Linked DNA regions of Homo sapiens: region 2 is linked to region 1. Evidence: fine-mapped expression QTL. Tissue or cell type: whole blood. Region 1 holds a variant in brackets; the other region holds the start of a gene. All regions are shown on one strand. Distances are from middle to middle.

What was found. PIP is the estimated chance that this variant, and not a neighbour inherited with it, causes the effect.
Region 2: it holds the start of JAM3, and the variant in region 1 is fine-mapped to the expression of JAM3 in whole blood (TOPMed, PIP above 0.99).

Annotation. Positions count from the first base shown.
Region 1 is chr11:134,092,496-134,100,679 of GRCh38, forward strand. All of the region lies in intron 1 of JAM3 (junctional adhesion molecule 3), which reads left to right. LOC124902797 (a long non-coding RNA gene) reads right to left here and starts at 2,190. Exons shown (of 2, transcript XR_007062960.1): 1 at 2,034-2,190; 2 at 1-1,853. The variant A/T (reference allele first, on the strand shown) is at 3,217.
Region 2 is chr11:134,065,658-134,073,841 of GRCh38, forward strand. It overlaps JAM3 (junctional adhesion molecule 3), which reads left to right and starts at 3,415. Exons shown (of 9, transcript NM_032801.5): 1 at 3,415-3,502. The coding sequence starts at 3,427. RefSeq lists a silencer at 3,220-3,409.

The sequences.
Region 1 (8,184 bases):
TGAGGGAAGCTTCTCCTGAGCCCTCTTTATTCATCATGTTCCACCTTACATCTTATTCATCATTTTCCATCTTACATGTCACTTCCTGAGGGAAGCTTCTCCTGAACCCTCCTTATTCATCATGTTCCACCTTACATCTTATTCATCATGTTCCATCTTACATGTCACTTCCTGAGGGAAGCTTCTCCTGAGCCCTCCTTATTCATCATGTTCCACCTTACATGTCACTTCCTGAGGGAAGCGTCTCCTGAACCCTCCTTATTCATCATGTTCCACCTTACATCTTATTCATCATGTTCCATCTTACATGTCACTTCCTGAGGGAAGCTTCTCCTGAGCCCTCCTTATTCATCATGTTCCACCTTACATGTCACTTCCTGAGGGAAGCTTCTCCTGAACCCTCCTTATTCATCATGTTCCACCTTACATCTTATTCATCATGTTCCATCTTACATGTCACTCCCTGAGAGAAGCTTCTCCTCAGCCCTCCTTATTCATCATGTTCCACCTTACATGTCACTTCCTGAGGGAAGCTTCTCCTGAACCCTCCTTATTCATCATGTTCCACCTTACATCTTATTCGTCATGTTCCATCTTACATGTCACTTCCTGAGGGAAGCTTCTCCTGAGCCCTCTTTATTCATCATGTTCTATCTTACATGTCACTTCCTGAGGGAAGCTTCTCCTGAACCCTCCTTATTCATCATGTTCCACCTTACATCTTATTCATCATGTTCCGTCTTACATGTCACTTCCTGAGGGAAGCTTCTCCTGAAACCTCCTTATTCGTCATGTTCCACCTTACATCTTATTCATCTTGTTCCATCTTACATGTCACTCCCTGAGGGAAGCTTCTCCTGAGCCCTCCTTATTCATGTTCCACCTTACATCTTATTCATCATGTTCCATCTTACATGTCACTCCCTGAGGGAAGCTTCTCCTGAAACCTCCTTATTCGTCATGTTCCACCTTACATCTTATTCATCATGTTCCATCTTACATGTCACTCCCTGAGGGAAGCTTCTCCTGAGCCCTCCTTATTCATCATGTTCCACCTTACATGTCACTTCCTGAGGGAAGCGTGTCCTGAACCCTCCTTATTCATCATGTTCCACCTTACATCTTATTCGTCATGTTCCATCTTACATGTCACTTCCTGAGGGAAGCTTCTCCTGAGCCCTCCTTATTCATCATGTTCCACCTTACATGTCACTTCCTGAGGGAAGCTTCTCCTGAACCCTCCTTATTCATCATGTTCCACCTTACACGTCACTTCCTGAGGGAAGCTTCTCCTGAACCCTCCTTATTCATCATGTTCCACCTTACATCTTATTCATCATGTTCCATCTTACATGTCACTTCCTGAGGGAAGCTTCTCCTGAACCCTCCTTATTCATCATGTTCCACCTTACATGTCACTTCCTGAGGGAAGCTTCTCCTGAACCCTCCTTATTCATCATGTTCCACCTTAAATGTCACTTCCTGAGGAAAGCTTCTCCTGAACCCTCCTTATTCATCATGTTCCACCTTACATGTCACTTCCTGAGGGAAGCTTCTCCTGAACCCTCCTTATTCATCATGTTCCACCTTAAACGTCACTTCCTGAGGGAAGCTTCTCCTGAACCCTCCTTATTCATCATGTTCCACCTTACATGTCACTTCCTGAGGGAAACTTCTCCTGAACCCTCCTTATTCATCATGTTCCACCTTACATGTCACTTCCTGAGGGAAGCTTCTCCTGAACCCTCCTTATTCATCATGTTCCACCTTAAACGTCACTTCCTGAGGGAAGCTTCTCCTGAACCCTCCTTATTCATCATGTTCCACCTTACATCTTATTCATCATGTTCCATCTTACATGTCACTTCCTGAGGGAAGCTTCTCCTGAACCCTCCTTATTCATCATGTTCCACCTTAAATGTGACTTCCTGAGGAAAGCTTCTCCTGAACCCTCCTTATTCATCATGTTCCACCTTACATGTGACTTCCTGAGGGAAACTTCTCCTGAACCCTCCTTATTCATCATGTTCCACCTTACATGTCACTTCCTGAGGGAAGCTTCTCCTGAGCCCTCCTTATTCATCATGTTCCACCTTACATGTCACTTCCTGAGGGAAGCTTCTCCTGAACCCTCCTTATTCATCATGTTCCACCTTAAATGTCACTTCCTGAGGGAAGCATCTCCTGATCTCTCAGATTCACACCCCCATTATACACTTTCGTGGCCCCTATACTTTTATAGTATTTATTGCAATTGCAATTAATTATATATGTAGAATTAGAATGTTGTTTGTGTGTGTTGTTTATTTGTGTATTATTAGAAGGCAGGGACCATGACAGTAGGAATTGTTCACTGCATTTCTTGGCCCAAATATAGTACGTGCTAGATGCTCAATAATGTTCGACATTTGTTGAATAAATGACTGAATATATTAATAAATGAGGAAATAGGCAGCAGTCTGCTTCCTTCATATGTAACACGTATGTTAAAAGATATGCTTGGTAGTGAATTCTGAAAGTCTAATGTAGTGAATGAAAGTGTAATATTGGGTTCTTTTCTTCATGTGCTGTGTTAAATTTAGTTAAATTTCAGTAATGAATCTTAGAAAACTGTCAGCATTAGGTCTGTCAAACAAATGTGAGAGGCAGAAAAGTTCGAAGAGAGAAAGTAAACCAGCATTGTTTCCCCACTTACTGAAAATAGGTTTTGTAACAGAATGGTGCAGTCTAAATGAAGAAATACACCTGTTAGGAATACCTTCTAAAGATCTGTTTGCATGTACTAATGCAAATATGGAAAACTCTTTTTTTTTTATTGGCACATGAAGTCTTTTGACTAAGATTTGTTCTAATAGGCCCAGCGCAGTGGCTCACGCCTATAATCCCAGCACTTTGGGAGGCTGAGGCAGGCAGATCACGAGGTCAGGAGATCGAGACCATCCTGGCCAACATGGTGAAACCCCATTTCTACTAAAAATACAAAAAATTAACTGGTTGTGGTGGCACATGCCTATAATCCCAACTATTCAGGAGGCTCAGGCAGGAGAATCACTTGAACCTGGGAGTCGGAGGTTGTAGTGAGCCGAGATCGCGCCACTGCACTCCAGCCTGGCGACAGAATGAGACTCTGTCAAAAAAAAAAAAAAGATTTGTTCTAATATTAAATACAAAATCAAGCAAATCAAATAGAAACAAAAGAGTCTAGGTTAAAGCACT[A/T]CGGAAGTACTCAGTTACGAGTGTGCTGTTAACTTGCTACATGACCACTTACTAAATAGGGGCTACTTTTTCGCCATCTTAGGAAGAAACTGAGTATACCAGACATCTTAAACATAACAAACATCTTAAATGTTGTCATCTAAGATTCAGACAGGTTTCTAAATGTTTTTGTCCTTGACTTGCAAACACTCAGTGGACACATACAGCCCTCTAACCCACTGTGTCTCAAATGTTGATGTACATGATGTCAGTTGCCATGCATTTTATTTATTTATTTGTTTTTTTGAGATGGAGCCTTACTCTCACCCAGGCTAGAGTGCAGTAGTGCGATCTTGGCCCATTGCAACCTCCACCTCCTGGGTTCAGGTGATTCTCATGCCTCATCCTCCCAAGTAGCTGGGATGACAGGTGCGCGCCACTACACCTGCCTGAGTTTTGTATTTTTAGTAGAGACGGGGTTTCTCCATGTTGCCCAGTCTCTGGTCTCGAACTCCTGGCTTCAAGTGATCCTCCTGCCTCGGCCTGGGATTACAGGCGTGAGCCACCACACCCAGCCCGTGTAGAAGGCATTTATGTAATGAACTGACATCCTTGGAGTGAGCTTTCAGTTTAGTATAAATAGGTAAGGGTTTGGATTCTCTGATCATCTTCTTGGTCTGTTCACTTCCATCCAGAAGGCCTGGGTCTGGATTGGCACCATGGATCTGGTTGAGACAAACAATAAGGCAAGGGCTTGTATGTTCTTTCTTTCACTTTATCGTACTTCATAGCCAGTACATAGTAGTGTTTTATTATGTTATGTTATTTCCTCTATTTTAATTTCTTCTCAAATCCAGGGGCCAGTTGTTTGGGCAGATGTTTACTAGGGACTCTAATCACCTGCTCTTCACCCAAGGAAAGGCAGTCTCTGAAGTCTCATTTCTATTATCTAAAAGCTAGTTCTGCATTTTCCCTTCCTGCAAGCAAGGAATGGTTTTCTTTTGACGTTTCCAGCTATGGTTTGCTTTGAACTGACTTCTTTGTTGTATTGGGGTGTGTGCTCAGTTAATGAGTAATGAACACGATTGGATTCTTCTTTCCTTGGGTAGATACTGGCCAGAATTATTCTTTACCTATGCTGTACCAGTTAATAAAGGACTCCTCAGTTTGTGCTTTCTCATAATTCACCAAATCTAGCAAATCTAGTATCTTTAATTTGGTTTATTATTACCATTAAATATTAGCTGTATGCCCACATTTTGCTAACATGTGGCACTTTGTAGAACTGTTAGGGGACTACCCAGAGAGAGTGCAGTGGTGGTGTGTTTTGGGGTTGTGGAAGAGGGCTGGAATGTAGTCACTGCCCTCCAGAAGTCCCTTTGTCATATATAATACAGAAAAGCCTTTTTCTTGTCCCCTCCACACCCCATCCCCCGCATCCCATCAAGCTGCTTAGGGTGAGGGGAAACACCATGAGAGAGGAATGGCAATAGTGAATGTGTTTTGATTACTCTTTACCATCCTCTTCCCTCAATAGTTTGAACTTTCCTTAGAAACAATTTCTAAGAGGGAATTTCTTAAGTGAGTACTAGGAAAGTTGGCAAATTTTGGAAACAGTGTTTAGTGTCTGTGGTTGCTGTTCTGCATTTCAGGGCGCCTTGCCTACAGATTAATCCCAGCTGGCCACTCTTCTACAGCACTTGCTCAGGAACAGGTTGTATTGACTCCTTCATTTGAGATTCGGTGAAATTCGCAAGTACCTCTGGAATCATTTGATGAACCTCTTTGGAGCATTAGTGATGCAACTTAATGTCTTTGGCAGGGACATTTCTTCTCACATCTTATTGATACTGGGTTTGAGGAGCAGGCTGACTTCTGGTTGTGTAGTCAGCTCTCGGTTTTTTTCTACTAATGGAGAAGGGAGGCATTATAGGGAATGGAAAATTCAAGTTGCAAAGCATTAAAAACAATTTAAAATTATGTTTCATTTAAACTAACAATTGCTGTATTTCTGACCAAATAATGTTTACTTCAGGATAATGTTTTCTTGATTTATTTTTATATTACAAGTTGCCACTTTATAAATTCTACAGATCATGGAAAGTAGTTTAAAAGAGTGATCTTCAGATTTTTAAATTTAAAGTCTATTCTTAATTTTCTTTTATATATATGTATATATATATTTATATACACACACTTTGCACTGTAAGATATTGAGTTTATGACATTAAGGACTCTGGCCCTTCAGTTCTTGAAAATTTAGTGCTTATAAAATTGTGAGGACTATATTCTAATCATTTTCAGTCAGTGAAAAACCTATATACTTTATGAAGCACGCAGGAAACATCTCCTTTTCTGCTTAGTTCCCCTAAAAATGTGGATCAGATCCATCTCCTGGGCCTAGTCAGTATTGATTGAGTGTATACCCAGGGCATCGTGCTAAAGTGTCACCCAAGCTCTGCTCTCCAGGGGAAGAAGAGCTAGCCATTCCTTTTACTGTGCATGCATATGTATATAGCTCACCTATATCCAGAAAACTTAGTTTACAAATGGACTGCTTTTTAGGGAAGGAGTGGACACAAAAGTTCAACTTCAGAGAGGAAAACTAAGAGCAATGCCAAATTAACTGAAATCTTCTGTTTTGAAAGAGGTCTTTTAATTTAAAAAAAGCTAGTTCTTGGAAAAAGCACAATAATCAAAACCAAATGTACCTCATTAGAAAGTTCACGTGAGATAATTTGGGATTTGCAAAATTAGTTTTAATCAATTGTGAAGGACAGCAAGACTATTTCTACCTGTGCCAGGTAGAAATAGTATGTATCTAAAGTCAGAACCATTAGTGTCGGGGCAAGTATAGATACTCATTCTCTGTAGTTGGGTCAGTTGTCTTCCTTATATGTTCGCCTTAGCTAAAATGGCAGAGAGAAATCCTTGTTGCATCATAACAAGGACATTGTCAAAGTACACTGAACTCATGAATTAGACAAATAGCAGCATTGTATCTTCTTTTTCTGGGCCTGATTTTGAGGTATACTGCACTTCCTAAGGGTGATTTCAGAGCTAGCTTGCAGGTGGAGCTCCACCTGCTGATACTTGTGAGGGATAGCTCAGTAAGCACTCCTTCAGCTAGCATGTTTCCCACTAACATTCACACTGATACTCCAGCCTAGAGAAAGACCTTTGGGTTACACCAGTCTCCAGAAAGCCTTCATTTAAATGCAACTAGGGAGAGGCGTGGTGGCTCACCACCTGTAGTCCCAGCACCTTGGGAGGCCAAGGTGGGCAGATTGCTTGAGCCCAGGAGTTCAAGACCAGCCTGGGAAATATGATGAAATCCCATCTCTGCAAAAAATACAAAAATTAGCCATGTGTGGTGGTGCATGCCTGTAGTCCTTGTATGCTTGGGAGGCTGAAGTGGGAGGATTACCTGAGCCTGGGGTTTCGAGGCTGCAGTGAGCTGTGATCATGCCACTGTACTCCAGCCTCAGTGACAGGGTGAGACCCTATTTCAAAAAATAAAAATAAAAATAATACTACCAGGTTGCATGGGGGAGGAATGAGGTAATTGTAAAATGAAGGTTTCAGGGAAAAGCCTGGGCAAGCAGCTCTTGGCCTGGGAAAGGCAGGCCCAGGAACAGATTTCAGAGTTGTCCCAACAAGTTGGGTGAAATCTGTTTCTATTTGCTTCATTTTCTTTTTCTCTCCTACTCCTCACTACTTAGAAGGGGATTTGAGGGACCCATTTAGATCCTTTTCTCACTGTCTCGCCCTCTCTCTGATGGTGGTATTGAGGATAAGACAGTATTTGTCATCTGTAATTAACTGTACTGCATTTGTAAGGCAAGTTGTGCTGTACTTGATTTTTATGTTTCTTTCAAGATTTCTGCCCTTTGCCTCCTGTATTTTTCTATTTATTTGTTTATTTATTTAGGGACAGAATCTCGCTCTGTCACCCGCCCAGGCTGGAGTGCAATGGTGCGATCTTGGGTCACTGCAACCTCCACCTCTTGGTCTCAAGCAATTCTTCTGCCTCAGCCTCCTGAGTAGCTGGGATTACAGGTGTGCGCCACCACGCCTGGCTAATTTTTGAATTTTTAGTAGAGACGGGGTTTCACCATGTTGGTCAGGCTGGTCTCGAACTCCAGACCTCGTCATCCGCCTGCCTTGGCCTCCCAAAGTGCTGGGATTACAGGCGTGAGCCACCGCGCCCGGCTTGCTTCCTTTATTTTTCTAACCTCATCATTTTCTGCTTTGCTCAGTGGAGATTTTCCAATAATGTCACCCAAAATATACTTTTAAGTCAATGTGTGCTATTTTTTAAGTCACTTCTGACTTTAATGTTAGACCTCTCCTTTGATGAAAGTTAAATCTCATGACATGGGAGAGTGACATTATATCTTTAATTAAGATGTTAAATTCTTCTCAAATTCTGTTTCTGATTAGAAAAGTACTTTGAGGTGAATCCCCCTTTCCTCCTTAAAAAAAAAATAGTGGTCAGTTCCTATCTCTAGGTCTTCAGTGAAATGATCCCATTTTTCTGATCCAAACAAGTTTCTGTGGCTCATCTGCTCTGCAGAGCCCTGTGTCTTCTGAGGAACGATTGCTTTCTGCATAACATACAGTGTTCTTTGCTGCTTTCCACCCACAGAGCCTTTCTTGCTGAGGAGGAGGTGTGATATAGGAAAATTATGAGGGCTTTTCAAACTCGCTTGCATTGATGGCCCAGATGGTGAGGAAAATCCCTTGGGGAGCTAAAAATTGAATGGGTTATAGCAGATTTTTAAAATCCCTAATTAGACTCTCCTTCTCTTTAAGACCACTTTTGAGTTACCACTGTATTTATATATCTGAGTCCTGTTTCCCAACTGCTAGTGAGCTCCTTGAGGGCATCCTTGGGTCTGTACACCACTGAAATCTCAGCACCTAGAAAGCAGTTCTCTAATAGTGGCTGATACCATGTGAATGCATTCTCTGCGTCAGGTCCTGTAC
Region 2 (8,184 bases), 27 kb before region 1:
TCATGGATCACATTCCTTTTTTTCTTTTTTTTGAGACATGAGGCATCGGTCAATACATGTAAGGTGTACATTGGTTCTGTCTAGAAAGGTGGGACAACTATAAGTGGGTGGGGTTGGGATTTCAGGTCATAGGCAGATTCAAAGATTATTCTGATAGAAAGGAAGGTCTGGTCTGGCTCTGGGGCAGTGGCTCGCTTCTGTAATCCCAGCACATTGGGAAGTTGAGGCGGGCAAATTACTTGAGCCCAGAAGTTCAAGATCAGCTTGGGCAACATGGTGAGATCCCATCTCTACCAAAAAAAAAAGTAGAAAAATTAGCCAGCTATGGTGGCGCACACCTGTGGTCCCAGCTGCTCAGGAGGCTGAGGTGGGAGGATTGCTTGAGCCTGGAGGTTGAGGCTCAAGCATGAGCCACGATTGTGTGCCACTGCACTCCAGCCTGAGTGACAGGGTAAGACCCTGTCAAACAAACAAACAAACAAAAACAAAAAACAAAACAAAAAAAAAGCAAGCAAGAAAGGAACGTCTGTGTTAGAATAACGGTTGTGGAGACCAAGTTTTTATCATGCAGATGAAGCCTCCAGGTAACAGGCTTCAGAGAGAGAGAGAGAGTCTGTTGTATCAGTCTTTTTTGTTTGTTTGTTTTTAGACGGAGTCTCATTGTGTTGCCCAGGTGGAGTGCAGTGGCACGATCTCAGCTCACTGCAACCTCCGCCTTCTGGGTTCCAGCGATTCTCCTGCCTCAGTCTCCCAAGTAGTTGGAACTACAGGCATGCATCATGATGCCTGGTTAATTTTTTGTATTTTTAGTAGAGACAGGGTTTCACCATGTTGGCCAGGCTGGTCTCAAACTCCTGAACTCAGGTGATTCGCCCACCTTGGCCTCCTAAAGGGCCTGGATTACAGGCCTGAACCACCGCACCTGGCCCTATCAGTCTTAAGATCTGTTTTAATGTTGATGCTGGTCAGTTGGCCTGAATTCCAAAAGGGTGGAGGGTATAATAAGGCATATCCAACTCCCCGATCATGGCTTAAACTAGTTTTTCAGGTTAACTTTGCAGTGCCTTTGGCTGAGAGGAGGGGTCATTTCAGATTGTTGAGGGGCTTAGCTTTTTTTTTTTTTTGAGACAGAGTCTCACTCTGTCACCCAGGCTGAAGTGCAGTGGCGCAATCTTGGCTCACTGCAACTTCCACCTCCCGGGTTCAAGTGATTCTCCTGCCTCAGCCTCCCGAGTAGCTGGGATTACAGGCGCCTGCCACCATGCCTGGCAAATTTTTGTATTTTTAGTAGAGACAGGGTTTCACCATGTTGGTCAGGCTGGTCTCAAACTCCTGACCTCATGGTCTTCCCTCCTTGGTCTGCCAAAGTGCTGAGATTATAGGCGTGAGCCACCACGCCTGGCCAGGGCTTAGCATTTTATTGTTGGTTTACATTCAGTTCCCCGAGCTCTTTTAAGAAGTGCATGTCTCCCTAGTAAGCCACACCTTAGAAATAAGCATATTCAGATGAGTAATGCTGTGATGGAGGCAGAGCCTCCTCAGCCCTGCTCACGGAATGCTTCCAGGACTTTGCTGCTGGCCTTATTGAGCTCTGATTCCCTTCTGCACAGGGTCAGAGCTCTCCAGGGAACAATGAAACCCTAAGGAAGAGCAGACCACTTCACAGCCACGTGTGTCCTACCCCACTCTGCTGCATCCCTAGTTAGACTTCCATTCCAGGAACTGTCTCAGCTGTTGGTAATGACATGCCGACTCCATCTGCAGAGGAAAATCAATGTCTTACAATGAAGCACCTGCCATCCACTCTCCTAGGAACCTCTGCCCCTTATAGAATATTCATGCAGCCCTTTTTTGTAATCTCGGTCTGAGTTTCAAAAGATTCCCTAGCAGGAAGACCATTTAACAGATAGACCATTTTACAACGCAAACACTGAAAATTCCGCAGGAGAAAAGAGGCACTGGTTTTTGAAAACCGTGCTCTGTCCACAGTCAGACACCATCTCACATTTCCAAGTAACCCAAACAGTTCCTTCAGTTAGGTAAATATGCCTGGCCATGTGACCAGGAGCTAAAGGGAATAATAGGGAAAACAGAGGGCAGAAAAAAATGTCAGTGGGCATAAGACGAATTTTCTTCTTTTTAATTTCTCGATTTTGTGCTTGATAAAGGGAAAGAGGCCACCATTATAAAACAACTTTTACACACTTTTACTTGTGATTTAGTGCATGGTGACCTGGAACATAAAGAAGATTTATGAAAGGAAAGACAGAATCATAGTAGGTAATTGAGTTATTTTTTAATTTTTATTCTGTCTTTATAAGATTTTTGAGAAGGTAATCAATTAACATAAAGATCTGAGCAGTTATAAAGATTTACAAAGAAGATTATACAGTGATGGAAACTGAAGCATATTCTTGGCAACAATCTCAATCTATTTCACGTTTCCCGGCTTTTACATATATAAATTTGGTATACATAATATGTAAATATACTTCTATTTTGCATGAAAACTAAAAATACTAAAAAAGTAGCATGAGTATATGAAAAAGTTAAACATTAAAAATATTAGTTGGAAACTGGCTTATTTTACTAACAATTATATTCAGAATTCTGTTGCTAGACTGCTGTTTCTGGGAACATTGGAGGTGTACTTTCTATACTTGCTAAAATACAAGCTTTTCAAGTATTTTCCATAGTATTAAGTGAGACTTTAAATACTCTTGCTTTTTTAGATCTAATTTCTGCTTTAATTTATCCTTCTCTTCATTTTTCCTGTTTGTCCTCATCTTACCTGTTCTTCCCTGGTTTTACTATCTCCCAGTATTCAGAAATCAGAGCAAATAATTAGTCTGCTTTTCTGCAGAATAAACTATTGGGTATGCCATCATGCTTTTGATCTACCACATAAACAAATTATTTTAGCAAGACATCACTTTTATATGCTGTATAATGTATGTATTGCTTATGTTTTAAGCAGATTTCAGCTCTTTTCCTTCCATCAATTTGGAATTGGGGGCCCAAAAGATGTGAAGGCGATAATGCTTCCAAGATAACTGGGCTGCATCCTTATTTGTAAAATAAGAAATACTTTATTTCCCAAATTTTAAAGGAGTGTTCCTTCTCCGACCTGTTGTGATGGATTTATTCTATAGCTATGGAAATATACCCTGCTTCACTCTTGTACATACTTCTTTACTCTCCTCCCGCCAAGTTCATTGAAAGAGAACCCATGTGCCGGTCCAGAGCATCGCTGCATCCGTAAGCAGCTAGACCTCAGCTTCCTCTGTCACCATGGTGCCGGCTCGGCTGGGCCCGGCGGTCGCCATGGTAACTGGGGCGGGTCGCAGGGTCCTGGCAGGCTGGGCGCATGCGCGCGGGGACTACAAGCCGCGCCGCGCTGCCGCTGGCCCCTCAGCAACCCTCGACATGGCGCTGAGGCGGCCACCGCGACTCCGGCTCTGCGCTCGGCTGCCTGACTTCTTCCTGCTGCTGCTTTTCAGGGGTGAGTTTGCGCGTTTCCGCTGTTGGGAGACTAGGGTCTGGGGGCGACGGAAGCAGAGCGGGCCGAAGCTGCTGGAGCCGGTCCGGGCGAGGATAGCGGTCCTGGCTCCGAGGGCTCCCGGGGTCCCGGGCCGGAGGGGCGGCGCGCGCCCGCGTCCCCGCAGCCAGGGCTGGGACTCGGGCCTGGCTAGGGCGGGGGCCCTGGGACGCCCGGCAGTTGGACCGGGGCGGGGAGCTAATTTGGGATGGGGGGCCCGTCCCAGGCAGTGAGTCGGTCCCGGACAGCCGTCGGACCCCGGGGGCGGGCTCTTCTCGGGCGGGGTCCTGTGCTGGGCGGTGGGCTCATCCCCCGGGTGGGCTCCTCCCAGGCGGGGTCCTGTGCTGGGCGGTGGGCTCATCCCCCGGGTGGGCTCCTCCCAGGCGGGGTCCTGTGCTGGGCGGTGGGCTCGTCCCCGGGGTGGACCCCTCCCGGGCGGTGGGCACGGCCCTCTGGAGGGAGCGCGGCAGCTGCGGCGTGGGCGCTGGAACTTGCTGGAAGACCCTGCGCAGCAGTGCTGTGCTCTCCAGAAGGGACGGTGAGCGGGGGACGTAGCTGAGGACCGGCGAGGCAGAGCTCCGAGGCCTGGCGGGCTGCTTGGTCACAGCCCTCTGGGGATCTGCAGTTCATTTGACTCGACACAAAGGAACTGCTTTTCTTTTACAGAAATAAAATGGATATCAATCCAGTACCTTTTTTGTCTCTGGCCTGGCCGAGGAGACCACGCAGACTCTTATCCGGAAATAGCATTCGGGGCATTTGATCAAGACACACTAATAAACTTGATAGTTTTGTGCATTTTCTTTCCCTCTGTTTGGAATTCTCATTAGATCCACATTTTCCTGGACAGTTGTACAGAGGACTAAAATAGCTTTCCTTTAGTGAGCTTGTACTGTCTACTAGGCACTTTGGAGCCATTATCTCGTTTACTCCTTTCAGCAGCTCTGTGAGATAGGTTTCATTAATCCATTTTCAGAGTCAAGTCTAGTCTGCTTTCCAAGGCTGCATTCTAAGTAGTGAAGCCTCAACTTCATATTTACCTAAAGCAGGACACCACACTCTTCCCCTGGCAGCCATCCGCAGGTAACCAGACCAGGACCTTTTTCGGTTCTTAGATTATTTTATTGTTTGAATTGCCACTGTCATCCCATGATGTTTTCCAGAATATACAAATTAAAACACGGAGGGACTGTTTAGGAGTGAAGGTGGACAGATTTTGGAAAACAAAGCATTCCTGTGTTTGGTGCTTTATGCTAATGGGATGCTCGTGATGGGCTGTGACAAAAGATGAGTTTTAGCGTATAGATTATGTACGCTAAGGCAAAGTCTGTATACTTTGCCTGAAAGTGATTCCCAAAACCAAATGCTGTTGGGAGATAAGTGATCAAAGGCTAGCCAGGGGACAAGGGTGTCAGGAATGTCCAGCACCCGCTGTGTTGGTCACACTGACACTGTCCTATTCACAGCCTGGAACAACTCTCTATTGTTGAAAAGATCTGTTCACGTGAAAGTTTGCAGTTTTTGTTGCAGAAGCATTTGGCAGTTTAGCTCAGGAATGAATTTCAACTTGGTAGTTTGTTAATAAAACTAGAAAATGCAAAGAGCTTCACTTACCCTTAACCTCTGATTTCCTTCCCCTAAGGGACTAGTTTTGTGGCTTTTTTGCTGGTAGGGGCTGGGATTCACATGCAGAGCGTAGGAGGAAGAATCAAATTTTGCAAACTAGTTCTAATGACAAATAATCGAGGTAGTAGGATGTATGAATCCACTTTGAAGGCGTGTAGCTATCTTTTTTTTAGTAGGGGCTCTTTTTCCATTATTTGGTTTATGCTTTAAGCTACCCTAAAACTGTTCTTCCAGAAGTCATGACTACTGTGTCCTTTTTATTTTTTATGATTATTCTCAATTGCTATTACTATTTATTTTCATCTTAAAAATTTTGGTTCTTGATATAACAGCAAACATTTCTTTTGTGGTTACCCTTTGCCAGGCTCTGTTACAAGAATTTAATGTTTGCTAATTTATTTAATCTTGATAACTCTAAGAAGTCGTTACTATTGTTGTGCCCTTTTGTGGATGAGGGAACAGAAGTATGGAGAGATTCAGACCCTTGTCGGGAGTGTTATCCTGTGCGTTTTAAATGGGAAATCCTTCATTATTTGTGTTAATCCAATTTTTAGTTATTTGTATTATTCCATTTGACGGTGGAGTTCTTTTAATGGATCAGTTTAAACAGATTATCAAGTTTTCAACACTATGTGGTTTGTATATAAAATATTCTTTTGTTGACTCATGACAGGTGCAGTTCAGCTTTACAAATGTTATGCCACATGGCTTTTTTGAATGATTGTGTACTCATTAGTGTTAGGTTTCCAAATCTTTGATATTCTAGAGAGAAGTGCCTTATTTAGAATTAAAACAGCAACAGTTTTCATTCTTCAGATAAGACAACTTGTGTGCTGAAGCATATCAAAATCTGAAAATCAAAATTTCTGGGAAATTTTTGAAAAAATGTTTAATTCTTTTATTTGCATCTGTTTGGACTCCAGTAACGTTTTTTAGAATGGCATATTCTTTTATGTTCTAATTCTTAATTATCTGGCAGATATAATCATTGTCAGACTTGTGTGTATGTTTTAAAAAAAACAAAGAACACCTGTCTTGAAAGCATGCAGTACTTTATATCAGCTGCTCATTCCCACATGACTTGTTGATGGGCATTTGTTCTTCAGTGCTTCAGGCTAAGGAGACTGAATGGATAAGTACTAGAGATACTTAATCATAAGTAATTGCAGTATTACATTCAGGCAGAATTATCCACACAACCCCTAAGCTCCATGGAACTTGTTCTTAAACTCCATGGGGTGGGTTTAAATCAGTTCTTTTGAAAGCAACCAGACTTTCCTCAAGTATAAGATGGCCACATAATGTAACAGACGCAGCTATGGATTTAGTACATTCGACTAGCAGCTGTTAGAGATGTGGTATTAGCAAATTCCTTCTCCATAAATTCTTTGAATTTTTTAAAAGCACAAATGTAGTAAAAGAAAGGAAAATATGTGTGAATGAAGTTAGGATGTATGGAGTCTGCTGAAGAATACCCTAGTGGTGAAGTTGGATTTTTTTTTTTTTTTGAGACTGAGTTTCTGATGCAGTGGCATGAGCTCAGCTCACTGCAAAACTCACTGCAAAACTCCGCCTCCCAGGTTAAAGCCATTCTCCTGCCTCAGCCTCCCGAGTAGCTGAGATTACAGATGCGTGCCACCTTGCCTGACTAATTTTTTTATTGTTTTTAGTAGACATGGGGTTTCACCATGTTGGCCAGGCTGGTCTTGAACTCCTGACCTCAAGTGACCTGCCCGCCTTGGCCTACCAAAGTGCTGAGATTACAGGCGTGAGCCACCACGCCCAGCTGGATTCTCTTTTAAGATATGTTTATAGTTGGCCGGGTACAGTGGCTCACGCCAGCACTTTGGGAAGCCGAGGTGGGCGGATCACAAGATCAGGAGATCAAGAACATCTTGGCCAACATGATGAAGCCCTGTCTCTACTAAAAATACAAAAATTAGCCGGGCGTGCTGGTGCTTGCCTGTAGTCCCAGCTACTCTGGAGGCTGAGGCAGGAGAATCGCTTGAACCCGGGAGGTGGAGGTTGCAGTGAGCTGAGATTGCGCCACTGCACTCTTGCCTGGGGTACAAGAGTGAAACTCCGTCTTGGGGGAAAAAAAAAGATGTTTATAGTCAGGTGGTGTGAATGTTATGCTGTCAAAGTTGAATGCAAATTTCAGATCTTTGCATGTACTCTCAGAATTCTAGCAGTATATGCAAATAGCTTCACTGGAGTGTAAAGCGATCCCGAAAGAAAGTTTTGGTAAGCACATTCTTTTACACCTAGTTTAGCAAGGACAGTATCCACTGTGGTACTCTATATGGAGAGCTAAAGCCTTAATTGACTGTCTCTCTGCTTCTTGGCATGGCACACAGAAAGCTTCCTGAGAGTTAGCCCTTGTTTCTGATGTCCCAGGAATGCTGTAGTGTTTTGTGTTGGTGTGTTTCTTTTGGTTTTAAGTAGTATTTGTTATGTGTTATATATTACATTTCCCATGAGTAGTTAATACATACAGCAGAGGTTTCAGTGCTGCTTGTATAAAGACATCAAACTATTTAATAGAGTTAGGACTATATGAACATTTTTTCTTACATTATCTTTCATTTGCAGTTTCCCAAGGTTTCTATGGTTCAGCCTTCTTCCTGAAAATTATTGCCAAAATCAAATTCTGCCATAGTCATGCTATCTGCTATGTTTGACAACCTCAGCCCACAGTGATCCTTCCTATCTCTAAATAAGCTTAGATCATAGTCTCTAGTTCAGTTTAGTACAACACCCATTTATTGAGTATCTATGACGTGTCAGGCACTGTTCTGTGTGCTAGGGTTGCAAAATGGGTAAAACATCGCCAGTCCTTAAAGAGCCAGGGTAATTGACTCCGATTTACATTGGGCTTTAGTTGTTAGGTGTCAGTGCATTGTATTTTCTCAATGATAATAAACATTTTGTTGGTAACAGAGGCTGAATTTAATTTTTTTGTATCTTTCCAGAGGTGATTCTAGTAAATATTCAGTTTATCTCACTTTGTCACTTGAAAG